4 linked regions of the Homo sapiens genome follow. The protein of the gene in region 3 purifies or fractionates together with the protein of the main gene of each other region. This does not show direct contact. Each region holds a gene or a part of one and is shown on either strand. Other genes may lie near its edges.

What was found.
Region 1: the proteins of ETFBKMT (region 3) and PISD purify together in Homo sapiens (affinity purification with mass spectrometry; one large-scale study listed by BioGRID and IntAct). This does not show direct contact.
Region 2: the proteins of ETFBKMT (region 3) and SIRT5 purify together in Homo sapiens (affinity purification with mass spectrometry; one large-scale study listed by BioGRID and IntAct). This does not show direct contact.
Region 4: the proteins of ETFBKMT (region 3) and SARDH purify together in Homo sapiens (affinity purification with mass spectrometry; one large-scale study listed by BioGRID and IntAct). This does not show direct contact.

The regions. Positions count from the first base shown.
Region 1 is NC_000022.11:31,652,216-31,655,715, reverse strand, and holds part of PISD (phosphatidylserine decarboxylase proenzyme, mitochondrial), read left to right. Parts: intron 1-3,500. UniProt on the Homo sapiens protein: Catalyzes the formation of phosphatidylethanolamine (PtdEtn) from phosphatidylserine (PtdSer). Plays a central role in phospholipid metabolism and in the interorganelle trafficking of phosphatidylserine.
Region 2 is NC_000006.12:13,581,101-13,584,600, forward strand, and holds part of SIRT5 (NAD-dependent protein deacylase sirtuin-5, mitochondrial), read left to right. Parts: intron 1-2,975; 5' UTR 2,976-3,010; coding exon 3,011-3,125; intron 3,126-3,500. UniProt on the Homo sapiens protein: NAD-dependent lysine demalonylase, desuccinylase and deglutarylase that specifically removes malonyl, succinyl and glutaryl groups on target proteins.
Region 3 is NC_000012.12:31,669,688-31,673,614, forward strand, and holds the end of ETFBKMT (electron transfer flavoprotein beta subunit lysine methyltransferase), read left to right. Parts: 3' UTR 1-2,616; coding exon of another isoform or gene 2,617-2,690; 3' UTR 2,691-3,427; downstream 3,428-3,927. Other genes in the region: protein AMN1 homolog, read right to left, coding at 2,617-2,690. UniProt on the Homo sapiens protein: Protein-lysine methyltransferase that selectively trimethylates the flavoprotein ETFB in mitochondria. Thereby, may negatively regulate the function of ETFB in electron transfer from Acyl-CoA dehydrogenases to the main respiratory chain.
Region 4 is NC_000009.12:133,707,353-133,710,852, reverse strand, and holds part of SARDH (sarcosine dehydrogenase, mitochondrial precursor), read left to right. Parts: intron 1-2,424; coding exon 2,425-2,566; intron 2,567-3,500. UniProt on the Homo sapiens protein: Catalyzes the last step of the oxidative degradation of choline to glycine. Converts sarcosine into glycine.

The DNA.
Region 1 (3,500 bases), on a different chromosome or scaffold from region 3:
TTGCAGTGAGTTGAGATCACGCCACTGAACTCCAGCCTGGGTGACGGAGCGAGACTGCATCTCAAAAACAAAACAAAACAAAACAAAAACGAGTCCTGGCCTGGTGCAGTGGCTCATGCCTGTAATCCCAGAACTTTGGGAGGCTGAGGTGGGAGGATCACTTGAATCCAGGAGTTTGAGACCAGCCTAGGCCAGATGGCAAGACCTTATTTATCTCCACAAATATTTAAAAATTAGCTAAGTGTGCTGGTGCACACCTGTAGTCCTAGCTACTCAGGAGGCTGAGGTGAGAGGATGCCTTGAGCCCAGAAATTTGAGGCAGCGGTGAGCTATGATCATGCCACTGCACTTGAGCCTGGGCAGCAAAGCGAGACCCCATCTCTGGGAAAAAAAAAAAAAGGGGGTTGTACCTGAGTGGCTGGATGAACGGTGGTACCTTTTTTTGACCTGTTGTGTTAATTATAGTAATGTTGGTACTGTAACAGATAAACTCCAGCATTCTCAGTGGCTTAACACCGTAGAAGTTTCTCACTCTTGTAAAGCTGCATTGGGTGTTCCTGATTGGCAGGGCAGCTGTTCTCCAAGCAATGTTCAGGGACCCAGTCTCCTGCCGTCTTTTTTTTTTTTTTTTTTTTTTTTGGAGATAGAGTCTTGCTCTGTTACCCAGGCTGGAGTGCAATGGCGTGATCTCGGCTCACTGCAACCTCTGCCTCCCAGGTTCAAGCAATTCTCCTGCCTCAGCCTCCCCAGTAGCTGGGATTACAGGGGCACACCACCACGCCCATCTAATTTTTTGGATTTTAGTAGCTACTGGGTTTTACCGTGTTGCCCAGGCTGGTCTCAAACTCCTGAGCTCAGGCAATTCCTCCACCTTGGCCTCCCAAAGTATTAGGATTACAGGTGTGAGCCACCACGCCTGGCCTTCCTGCCATCTTTAATACTTCCCACAGTCGGCATGTTTGTCTGCATCAAGCTGGCTGGTGGGGGTAAGCTTGGAGGTGAATGCCTGGGAAGCCCGAATGATCCTCAGATTTCATTGGTTCACACTTAGTCTCATGGCCACACCTTGCTGCACAGGAGGCTGGGAAATTTAGTCTAACAGGTGTCCAGAAGAGGAAGTGCATTTGGTAAACATCTGGCTAGTCTCTCCTATGGATAGAGAACTCGGGCAGGAGCAGATTGAAGGTGAGTTAGAGAGGGTCGGGAATCCTGTCTTCTACAGACTCAGTTTGAGAGGACTCAAAATGGGGCCATTGGGTAGCTGGCCCCTGGAGGAGCAATGAAGGAGTCATCAGTGGATGGTTCTTTAAAGCCATGGGACTGGATAAGCATCTCTGGGGAGAGTTTATAGGTAGAGAAGAGATCTGAACCCTGGGCATGGCAAGAATCCACAGTTAGGAAGCAAAGGAGAATTCACAAATAGAGACTGAGAAGAAACCAGAGAAATAGGAAAAAAATCACGGTCCCAAAAGCCCAGTGAAGAGTGTTTCAAGGAGAGAAGGATCAACTGTGTCATGCTGCTGAGACGTCAAGTAAGATGAGACCTCAGATATGTGTGTGCATTGGTGTTGGCAACATGCAGGTTGTTGGTGACCTTGATGAGGTGGTGTGATAGGAACAAAACCTTACTGAGTGGGACTAAGAGAGGCTGAGAGGTGAGGAAGTGGTAACAGTGAGTGGAGAGCTCTTTTTAGGCTTGGAATGAAGGAGAGCAGAAAAGTAGGGAGGACCAAAGAATGATAGCATGGTAGACAGTGTTTGTGTAAGACTGAAGAAATGACAGCATTCATATGAAAATCGGGACGATCCCGTAATAAGATTCTCCTGCCTCAGCCTCCTGAGTAGCTGGTACTACAGCGTGTGTGCCACCACACCTGGCTAATTTTTGTATTTTTAGTGGAAATGGGGTTTCACCATGTTGGCCAGGCTGGTCTCGAACTCCTGACCTCAAGTGATCCACCCGCCTTGGCCTCCCAAAGTGCTGGAATTACAGTCATGAGCCACCATGCTCAGCTAGGTGTTTATAAGTCAAGGAAGTTTTATGTGAAAAAAGGGAAGTACCTAAATCTGATGTACCAAACTGATATAATGAAGCATTTCCCAGTATTTGTTCCAGCAGCTGGGACTACAGCGGTGGACAAAAAGCTGAGCTGTTTGTTCTTGGGCAGGGTTCCTGAGGGGGAAGATGGATATGCAAAACAAACCACCTGAGTGCCCTGTGTCCAGTTACGGTGGATACATAAATGATCATCTCCCATTCCTATTTCCTCCTGTCAGACAAAGCCTTGTTAATCATTGTGCAAACATTCTTTCAGTTAGGGGTTTTTCAGTATTCTGGAAAACACAATGCGGCAATGTACAGAACACAACAATTTATCCTTCAGTCCGTTTTTGCACTTCTCGTTAAAATTCTGTTTAGAAAGCAGGGTTTTAGGCTTTTTGCTGTGGCAGTGGGAGTATCCAGTCTAAGAAATGAACATTGTTCAGAACTGAAAGAACTTTCATATACTGAAATATACCCTTCATTGTGTTAATAGCTGTCTGGCCTTGGGGGTGGTGCTCGTCATGGTAAGATGCTTTTTCTCCTTGTTTGCCTATAGGAGAATCAGATTCATCATGTTAGCTACAATAGTGCTATGCTGCAAGGTGGGTGTGGTTTTTTTTTTTTTTTTTTTTTAAGGTAGGGTCCTACTCTGTCACCCAGCCTGGAGTACAGTAGCGTGTTTTCGGCTCACTGTAACCTCTGCCTCCTGGGTTCAGGCGATCCTCCCACTTCAACTTTTTGGTTAGGTAGGACTACAGGCACATGCCACCATGCCCGGCTAATTTTTGTATTTTTTGTACAGATGGGGTTTCACCATGTTGCCCAGGCTGGTCTTGAACTCCTGGGCTCAAGCAATCCTCCCACCTCAGCCTCCCACAGTGCCAGGATTATAGTTGTGAACCACAATGCCCAGCCTGGCAAGGGGGGTGTTTGTTTTGTTTTGTTTTGTGATTCTCCTGCCTCAGCCTCCCGAGTAGCTGGTACTACAGCATGTGTGCCACCGCGCCCGGCTAATTTTTGTATTTTTAGTAGAGACGGGGTTGCACCATGTTGGCCAGGCTGGTCTCGAACTCCTGACCTCAAGTGATCCACCCACCTCGGCCTCCCAAAGTGCTGGGATTCCAGGCGTGAGCCATCATGTGCTCAGCCAGGTGTTTGTAAGGCAAGGAAATTTTATGTGAAAAAAGGAAAGTACCTAAATCTGATAACATTTGTAGGATATCTATACAAGACATAACTTGGGCCAAGTGCTGTGGCTCACATCTGTAATCCCAGCACTTTGGCGGGCCGAGGCAGGTGGATCACTTGAGGTCAGGAGTTTGAGGCCAGCCTGGCCAACGTGGTGAAACTCTGTCTCTACTAAAAATACGAAATTAGTCAGGTGCAGTGGCATGCGCCTGTAATTCCAGGTACTCAGGAGGCTGAGGCATGACAATCGCTTGAACCCGGGAGGTGG
Region 2 (3,500 bases), on a different chromosome or scaffold from region 3:
AATGATCTAAACCAGGACAAGTACTACACCTAGACATTTACATATACAGTACTAGTAACTAATTTACAGGCTTCATTCAAATTTTGCCATTTGTCCTACTAATGTCCCTTTTCAGGTCTTGAATCCAGCCCAGGATCCCACGTAGCATTTACTTGTCATGTCTCATTAGGACCTGGGACAGTTTCTCCAGTTCTTATCTTTCAAAACTTTGATACTTTTCTGAAGAGTATTGGCCAGTTTTGCTGTAGAGTGTGTAGAACGCCCCTCAGCTTGAGTTTGGCATTTTCTCATAACTAAATTGCAGTCATGAATGCCACACAAGTGATGCTTTGCCCTTCTCATTGCATCATATGAGGAGGTAGGTGGAGTCGCCATGTCTTATTACTGGTGATGTTAACTTTGATCACTTGGTTAAGGTGGTAGCTGCCAGCTTTTCTACTATAGAGTTATTATTGGATAACACTTTTAAAGATTCATTCATGCTGTTGAAGGTATTAGTAGTTTGTTCTTATTGCTGAAGAGTCTTCATGGTATGGATAAACCACAATTTGTTTACCCATTTATAAATTGATGGACATTTGGTTTGCTTCTAGTCTTGAGCCTGGCACTATCTGATAGGCCTTGGTGTTCTATTGAACATAAACCACGTCACAGAGCACCGATATCAGACAGGGCCACTCTGTGACCACAATGGGTCAGGACAAGAACAAGGCCACTCAGTAATCACGTCTGAACTGGGACCGAAACAGGAACATTGTTGAAGCCACAAAGATGACCAAACATCCTCCCATGCCGCTAACATGAGGGACTCCTGCTTGGCCACTCACAGCTCTAGCCTCTCTTCATTCCTTCCACCTTTTAGATAAGATCCATTAACAGCATCAAATCCAGAACAAAGCCCCACTTCCATGAACCTCTCCCCAACATGATCTAACACAAGCACAAATCCTCTAATCAGTCCATTCCAGGTTCCTAACAGATGCTGCAGTTCTTCATGGCGTGTTCTATCTCTCGCAACTTGCTCGAGTACAAGTGTGTTCCTTGGACTGGAAGGCATTGATAATCCAAACAATATATAAACACATATGGAAAATCCTTGCTCAGCTCTAATCTCCTTACATAGCGTTTCCCACCCTATACTCAATTCTTTTTACTAATTTCTTGTGAATTCTTTTTTTGTTTTTATAGCAAATGCAAGAAAGTTAAGGTATATTCTTTTATCCCCTTGCCTTTCTCTTACAAAATACAATTGTGGTAAAACACATGTAACAAAATTTAGCATTCTAACCATTATTAAGGGTACAGTTCAGTCTATTCGCATTGTTGTGTAGCTAATCCCCTGAACTCATTTCATCTTGTAAAACTGAAGCTCTATACTCATTATTTTTAAGTAAAATATGTGTCTAATAAAATTAACCCTTTGTTAGTATTGAGTTTTATGAGTTTTGACAGATACAGTCATGTAACTACTACCACAATCGAGATATATAACAATACCATTGCCTCCCACCAAAAAAAAAAAAAAAAAAAATTCCCGCATGCCCCTTTTTAATCACTCCTCCCCTTTCTGGCAACCACCGTTATATTTTCTGCCCCCACAGTTTTGTTGGACAATCAGTGTCATTGTTCCAAATGTTGTCTTTCTCTGTGTTTGTTTTCTTTTTATAAAATTCCTCAGGTATAGACAAAGATTTACTGAATGTGCCTTAAGATCCACGAGTTTCTGTGACACGATGTTATCTTAATACTATTGTCACAGTACACTTCTTTCCTTCAGAATTTAGTTCTCAGTTAGAAATTACATTCTCACAGAAACTACTTTGGGCTGGGCATGGTGGCTCATGCTTGTAATCCCAGCACTTCGGGAGGCCTAGGTGGGTGGATGGCTTGAGCTCAGGAGATCAAGACCAGCCTGGCCAACATGGTGAAACCCTGTCTCTACCAAAAATACAAAAATTAGCCGGGCATGGTGGCGCGTGCCTGTAGTCCCAGCTACTGGGGAGGATGGGGTGGGAGGATCGCTGGAGCCCAGGAAGTCAAGGCTGTAGTGGGCCGTGATCACGCCACTGCACTCCAGCCTGGGTGACAGAGTGAGACCCTGTCTGAAATAAAAGAAAGAAACTGTACTTTGACCGCAAGTTGAGAGACTAGTGGTGGTTTTCATACCTTCTTTTTTTTCTTCTTTGTTCTTTTTTTTTTTTTTTTTTTTTTGAGATGGAGTTTTCCTCTTGTTGCCCACGCTGGAGTGCAATGGTACAATCTCGGCTCACTGCAACCTCTGCCTCCGGGGTTCAAGTAGTTCTCCTGCCTCAGTTTCCTGAGTAGCTGGGATTACAGGCATGCACCACCACTCCCAGCTAATTTTTTGTATTTAGTAGAGACAGGGTTTCACCATGTTGGTCAGGCTGGTCTCAAACTCCTGACCTCAGGTGATCCACCCATCTCGGCCTCCCAAAGTGGTGGGATTATAGGCGTGAGCCACTGCACCTGGCTTCATACCTTTTGAAAAGCAGCAAGTTTTCAAATGAATTCTCATATTTAACCCTTTCTTGTGCATTTTAGTGGTCCTCAAACTTGAGTAGTTACTAGAATCACCTGGAAATAGATGATGGGGTCCACCCCCAGAGTTTCTGATTCAGCAGCTCTGAGGTGGAACCAGAGGCTGCATTTCTAACAAGATTTCAGGTGATGGCGACGCTGCTGGTCTAGGGAACACGCTTTGAGAAGCACTGCTCCAAGGCACCTCTGCACCTCTAGGAGCACTTGAGAACACAAACGGAAAACAGCCAGTTCAGAGGATGATCTGTTACTAAAGATTTTTTAAAGGACATTCGTGTATGTGTGCGTGTGGGTATAATATAATATACATGATGCGTTTCTGTAATATATAAAATATAAATATTTATACATATTTCCATATATAAAAATATTTGCTGATTGTTTCTACACTATTTGTTTTTGTGATTTTTCTAAAGCCCGCCTCAAGCATTAGAACTACAGACAAACCCTGATGCGACCTCTCCAGATTGTCCCAAGTCGATTGATTTCCCAGCTATATTGTGGCCTGAAGCCTCCAGCGTCCACACGAAACCAGATTTGCCTGAAAATGGCTCGGCCAAGTTCAAGTAAGTCATTTTACCCATTGCCTCACCTGCAGCCAAATGTGAAGTACCTGAAAGTCCTACACTTCGAGAGGAATGTCTCTGTCAAATTAGGTATTGGGCAAGGTTTTGGAGAAAGCCACTCTGTCATCTTCTCTTTTTTTTTTTGAGACGGAGTCTTGCTCTGTCGCCAGGCTGGAGTGCGGTGGTGCGACCTCGGCTCACCGCAACCTCCGCCTCCTGGGTTCAAGCAGTTCTCTTGCCTCAGCCTCCCGAGGAGCTGGGACTGCAGGCACATGCCACCACAACCAGCTAATTTTTGTATTTTTAATAGAGATGGGGTTTCGCCATGTTGGCCAGGATGGTCTCGATCTCTTGATCTCGTAATTTGCCTGCCTC
Region 3 (3,927 bases):
ACAAAGTTTAATTGAGCAAAGAACAATCTGTGAATTGGGCAGCTCCCAAAAGCAGAATAGGTTCAGAGTGACTGCAGGGTTGCCACACCTGGTTAGATAACGTTTATGGACAGATTCCTAGAGCTTTTGATTCTTTTTTTTTTTTTTTTGAGGCAGAGTTTCACTCTTATTGCCCAGGCTGGAGTGCAATGGCGTGATCTTGGCTCACTGCAACCTCCACCTCCTGGGTTAAAGTGATTCTCCTGCCTCAGCCTCCTGAGTAGCTGGGATTACAGGTATACACCACCAAACCCAGCTGGGATTACAGGCATGCACCACCATGCCCAGCTAATTTTTGTATTTTTAGTAAAGACAGGGCTTCGCCATGTTGGCCAGGCTGGTCTCGAACTCCTGACCTCAGGTGATCCACCTGCCTCAGCCTCCCCAAGTGCTGGGATTACACGTGTGAGCCACTGTGCCAGGCTGGAGCTTTTGATTCTTAAGTCCATCCACATGGAGCCTCCAGCAACTCAGGAATTACAGCATAAATGTTCCTATTGGTACTGGCTCCAGCAACAGGCTTCTGCTCCCTGTAAGCTATGGTTCTTTGTATTTGCGTTTCTAATTTGTGAGGCATTCTCTCTTTAACCTTAATTCTCTAATGGATCTAAGTGTTGTTGACTTTTCAGTTTATTGAGCTTTTTTCTTATTGTGAGGATGGGAATGATGACTTCCAATCTCTTTATATTAGAAAATATAAATCAGACTAGAGACTGGAAATTTTTGTTGTTGTTGTTGGGTGTTTTGTTTTGTTTGTTTTTAGACAGGTCTTGCTCTCTCATCCAGGCTGGAGTTCAGCAATGCGACCGTGCTCACTGCAGCCTCGACTTTCTAGGCTCAGGTAATCCTCCCACTTCAGCCTCCTTAGTAGCTAGGACTGTAGGCATGCACCACCATGATGCCTGGCTAGTTTTTTTATTTTGTATTTTTTGTAGACATGGAGTCTTGCTACATTGGCCAGGCTGGGTATTACTGGGTATTTCTTTCTTTCCTCCTTTATTTCTTTCCATATTTACTTATTCAATGAATATTTGAGTGCTTATTATATACCAGGCACTGTTCTAGGCACTGGGGATATGGGGATACAGCAATGAAAAAAAAAGATAAATACTTTGTCCTTATGAAATTTGTATTCTAGAGTAGGGAGACATAATGAACAAATGAAAACAGGCATCAGATGGTGATAGGTAGTAAGGAGAAAAAGAAGTAAGGGTAATAGGGAATACTGGGTACTGGATGGGGTACAGATATTTTAAACAGAGTGGTGAGAAATAGTTAATACAGCTAGCAACATAAAAAAGGAGAAATATCAAACTGCAAACTGTTTTAGGAAGATAAATCCTTCATAGACCCAAAGAAGCTCACAATTTAGATGTCGAAACTAGTTTCTGCAAAAAGGGGAAAATGTGATTGACTTGGTTAAATATTCAGTATTAAATTTTATTGAATTTGTCTTTAGAAAAATTTCATAGTTAGAACAGGCCTTACCCATTTTGCACATATATACATATGCACCACCTTTGCAGTGGCAACATATATATCCACACTATAAACATACCACATTTATAAATCTTGTAAGGACAAGAAATGGAGTTGAATAAGTACCCCCCAACATATACAAGAAAGTTAGCATACTTACCCCGTTTTTCACTACATCAGAGGCAAAATAAGAAATCTTTTAAGAAAATCTCAAGACTGGCTCATGGCAAAATGAATATGCTAAATTTGGGGGTTGGTTTAAGCGTGGTATGTGTCAGGTAATTTTGTGATTACCAAAAAGTTTTCACTTGAAAACTAAGACCTTTGCTGTTTATTTCACAATGTGAAATCAATAAACCTGAGGATACAAGTCTCTGTAGTGATATTCTGTATTTACTCATTTTTACACATTTTTGAATGCAATTTTGCTAAGGAAGGAAAGCTTACAGATGCATAAAATGTAACTGGGAAGAGTAGCCATAAAAATCAATGAATGGATGTGGCTGGGCAAGAGCCTCTGTAATACTAATACGCTGAATGGCTAATAAGTCACTTCATTTCGGTGAAACAAATACCTAAATTCTTTGAAGAATTAACAGGCTTGATGTTCAGGTCTGCTTTTGGCAAATGGGCATTTAAATACTCCAAGAAGGTAAGAGCCAGAAAATAGGAAGGTAACTATGCTTTTAGAAATATGTTTACTTAGATTCTCCCAAGGTTTATACTTACAGGTAAACTTAGAACAATAGCTCAAATACCTACATAGGAGAAGGAAATCTCAAGGGAAAACAGTTAATTTTAAAGTTATTTAAGAAACAGAATCCAACACCATAGATCAGAGTTCATGCTAGGATTATCATTTCAAAAATAATGACTCATCCAACAGATATAGAATAATAGCACTTTAAAGATGTTTAAGAGTAAAGCACAAACCATGTATATACCAAGACTTAGCTAATTCTCTGAGAGTTATAACTTAAGACAATAAAATAATTAAAAATAGTGTTAACATTAAGTAGAATGCAAATCTCTATAGATGGTTTCCTGGGAAAGTAGTTTTGATAAGCTTTCCTAGCATTGATCATCTTCAAAAAAGCATCAATAAACAGTCCATGTCACTTGCTTTAGTTTGTTTGGGCCTACTAATTGCTCCAACACTTCTCGGGAATGATCTATAAAAGAAAACAATGACAATATATTAATTGACAATAAAAAATGTTTAATGTTTCCTCATGTCTAACTGGAGGTGATGTTAATTATTATACAGTTATTTAAAGGATTAAAGGAGGTGATCTATAAAGCACAATATACAACTAACTCACTAATAATTAATTAATGGTAGCCCTCACTATTATTAGGTGTAGTGCACCTATCATGGTATTACTTGTTTAAAAAAAAAAAACAGGCATTTGTTGTTTTCTCTGTAATTTCATCATAATTCCACCAACCAGAGTAATGGTCTAATTTCACCATTAACCTGTGTTAATGGTTAATAACTTTTTTCAGGATCTTAGCCGGAAATAGATGATTCACTAAAGTGGGGTGACTGAACAGCATTTAATGAAGGGAATATTTACCAAAAAAGTAGGATTAAAGAAAGCCAATAGGTACGGTAAACCACCTTGGGAAGCTGCAACACACCCAAAGGGTTAAAGGAGGTAGTAGTCACCGAACGTGACAAGTTGACCTGTAGCTGAACATTTTTCCATGTCTGTATAATACTACTATAAAGCATGATTTTAAATAGATAACCATTATATAAATACACTGTAATTTAACCAATCTATATTATTGGACATTTAGATGTTTTCAGTTTTTCACAATGTACAGTCGTGATTTTGATATGGTTTCCATCCTAGTTTTAGGATGTCTTTTAAAAATCTGAATTAAAGCAAAAATACTGATAAAATTTTGTTAGTTTAAATATTACTCATAAGTTTAATAAACTTGTTTCCATAGATACAACCTATGTTTTATGTACAACATATCTCTAACCTAGTCTTGGAAATCCTGTAATTTGGTGGTTCCTAGACAGATTTCACAGACCAGTAGAAAAAAAAAAAAAGATGGGCCCAACATATACAGTGACAAAATTTTATTTTAAGTTTAACAAAATTAAGCAAAAATACCAAGGTTTATTGCCAGCAAGAGAACCAGAGAGTGTATAGAAATGAAAAGTTATTATCATTGGGAAAACAAAGGTTTACAATTTTTTAAAAAAGCAGCTAGTAAGATAAATGCAGTTTTATTCATGGTCATAAAAATATTATTGGTTATTGTAGAGGAAATCTCAATCAAAGATAGATTCAAATTATGTTGAAAGTAAAAGAATGGACAAAGACATACCATTTAAATGGCAACCATGACAAAGCTGGGTGGCTATAGAAGAAGGGGGAAACACTTTCCAAC
Region 4 (3,500 bases), on a different chromosome or scaffold from region 3:
CAGCCCAGCCGTCACTGACGTGGGGCTTCCAAACCCCTTCAGTGTGCCAGAGTGGACGGCCGCCACCAGCAGGACCAGCCACCGGCCCCCAAGGGCTGTAGCACTAATGCAATGTTCTGCCACCTCGGGCCTGCGCCCGGGGACTGAGACAAGACACAGACCCTGAAGGAGAGAGACAGAGCGAGGAGAGGAAGGAGGTGCCTGAGAAAGTCGTTGAAAGACCCAGAAAAGAAAGTGAACAGAGAGCGTCGGCGCCAGAACGGAGCTCTCCCCTGCTCAGAGACTCCTGGTTGCTCCCCTCAGGCCAGAGCCAGAACACGCGTGGGTCGTCCTTCATCATACACATGGGAGACACGCACAGCGAGGGGGCGTCCCGGGAGACCAGGCAGCCTGAGCCGTCCCTGGGTGCGGGGCCTGTCTGGGCTCCGGGCTGCGCGTGAGGGTCCCAGGGCTGACCGGGCACCAGGGGGCTTCCAGGCCATGGCAGCCGCCCTGCGCGTGAGTTCCTTTTGAAATCAGATAAGAGGCTGTCTCTCCAGCCCCATATCTGTCAGCTGCATGGCCCTTGGTCAGTCGCTCCTGTTCTCTGAGCCTCAGTTTCGCCACCTGGAAAATGGGAACAATGTACCACCCTCTTGGAGCGCACTCGAGGCTCATGCGTGTGGACGCTTGGCCCAGTACCCAACAGAGGCAGAGCCAGAGTGTGGGCTGGGCTGTTTTTTCAGGGAAATTCCTTGGGGACCAGGTGAGCCAGGGAAGAGTTGCTCTTTATTTAAGTGAAAAGGGTGGTCTGGGCCGGCCTGGTCCCTCTGCCCACTTGCTCACAGGCCGAATTGGCAGCTGGGACTCTGTAGGTCACTCGCTGCTCCTGCCACCCGACGTGCACCTCACTGCTGCCCCCAAGAATCCTCCCAGACCTTCACTGGCTCCATCACCCCCTCCTTCAGCTCCTGGTCAGCATAGCCTGGCGCAGGTGTGGGCTGCCTTTGCCGTGGCCTTGCCGTGTGACTGTGAACACTTGTGAGACCCTTCCGAGCCTCAGTTTCCCCCTGCGTGAAAGAGTTAATCTTGGGTCCCATGCAGAAGGCAGCTCTGGGGACAAAGAGAGAGGGATTTCCTCCCACAGCAGCACTCAGCTCTGAGCCTGCACTGGAGCTGGGTGCCATAAGCGACAGCAGCTGTTAATGATAATATCATTAATAATAATCCTCACGTCTGCACCTCTACTCCCCACCCATCCAGATCAGAAAATTCTGCTTGCTAGAATTACGTGCAGACTAAGAATCAGCCCTGACAGGTGTCACTGAGGATAGAAACGCCTCTGATGTGGCTGCTGAGGCAGCCTTGAGTGATGAGTGAGGTTCTAGCAGGTGGAGCGTGAGGGGGAGGCGGGGTGCTGGGAAAGCCGGGGGCTGACAGGGAGGTTTGTGCGTGGGAGGCGGCTGCAGGGCCCTGATGCAGCTGGGCCCGGGTCTCACTCCAGCCAGCAGTTCCGCACTGTCGGATTCGGGACGGGTGGCTGGTCTGAGGAGACCAGGGAACAAGCCGCGGGGCACTGATTGCTCTGCCCACTCAGGGGCAGCAGAGGCCTAGGCCGCAGGTGCAGCCACAGAGCTCCGTAGCTCCATGAGAAATAGCATGGGGCCCGCCGGGTTCGTGCTGGACACCACCGGGGGCTGCCGTGGCCGCACACTGTGTCCCCAGCCTCGAAGGAACAAACCCAAAACTATTGCAGCCACATCATCTCCGGTCCCAGGCGCTGGATTGGGCAGCCGCTCCCCAGACACAGCTGGGATTTTCCCCCAGAGACTCTGTACCTCTTGGGTCCCTGGTCTGACCCACAGACGAGGCCCAGCTTTGGGATCACAGACTTGGGGAGGCCTGATGGGACAGGCGGCCACCCTTGCCCCCACTCCCCTGCTGGCGGGTGGAAAGGGGGGTTCCTTGATGAGGAGGGGGACACTGGTGTTCTGACGCATCACCAGGCTAAACTTCAAAGACCCTTCACATGGACCCTCCCCAGAGCATTCTGGGGATCTGAGCCCATCCCTCCCAGGGGCCGCTCCCTCCCCAGTCATGTAGGGGCACCCCAGGACTCCCCAGCACTGGAACCTAGGCAGCAGACAGCAATGTGTGGAGAGCGAGGCTGGAGTCCCATGTCCCTGTGGGGGATGAGAGCCTCAGCTGGGCCCTCTGTCCACAACGCCCACTCACTGAGGGCCACTGGGGTGGGGTGGCTCTGGGGGAGAAAGCTGAGTTCACCCAAGGGTGGGGCGAATGGAGAGTCAGGGGCCCGCTCAATGCTGAGCCACAAAGGGGACTCTGGTGCAGGGGACCGGGGTCCAGGCTTACCCTGGGTCCTAGGCTAGCCCTTCCCTGACGGGCCATCCCCAAAGCAGTGACCCGTCCCCCTGTCTGCGGCAGGCGCTTCCATCACTCGCTCACGGACCACCCCCGCTGGATCCGAGAGCGAAGCCATGAGTCCTACGCCAAGAACTACTCCGTCGTCTTCCCCCACGATGAGCCGCTGGCCGGGCGCAACATGAGGAGAGACCCGCTGCACGAGGTAACGCCCCTACAGCTCCTGCTGGGGACTGGCAGCGAGGGTCTGGGACGTCCTCAGGGCAGCGGAGTGACAGAAATGCAAGGTGTACCCCAACCGCAGGTCAGGTGCGGTGACAAGGTGTCTGTCATTCCCCAGGTAGTAACCCGGCACCCCCATGTGTTGGGCACAGTGCTCAGGGCCAAGAACATTAGGGAATAAAGTGGAAATGGCTCCCTCCCACCCGGGGGCTTCTGTTGTAGTGGAGGAGCAGGAACGCACACCCAGGAACCGCCCCCTGCCAACTGCTGGCAGCAGCGCCAACAGGGCAGGGGTCCTGGGGGCGGGGTCTTGGTGGGTGTATGCAGCCACGTATTGGGAGAGCAGCCAGAACACGGCGTACATTGGAGAGGGGCTCCTGCCTGTAGAGCCTGCTGCGGAGGCTCTTCTGCCCTGGTGAGCTTCGACTCACCCATTCAGTGAAACCCACTGTCAGGTGCCCCTTTCTCAGGTCTGCCCCTGTGCCCTCCCCTGGTCCCCCAAAGACAAAGGAGCTCCTTCTCTGCGCTCCCAGCCCCGTCTCCATTCCTTCCCCCTCTCCCTGGCCATCTCGTGCTGGACGCTTTGCTTTCTGGGGAACAGGGGCTATGTCCTAGGCACTCTGGTTCCTGAGCATTGAGGTGCTCGGGGGATGTTTGTTGAACAGATGGATGGGCGGGGAGGCAAGAGGGAGGCTCAGGGAGCAGGTGGCGTTTAAACTGAAGAAGGGGCCTCCCTCACCTGAGATTCCAGTGTCTGGCCCCAAGAGAGATCCTGGTATTAGCTGTACCTCCTGGGGAGAGGCCCAGAGTGGTCACAGGGCTGGCTCCCAGACTGCCCTGGCCCTTTGGCCTGGCTTGGTGGACCAGCTATGATCTCAGGCCACACATGGCCCTGGGGTCTCCCTAGCATGCCCCCG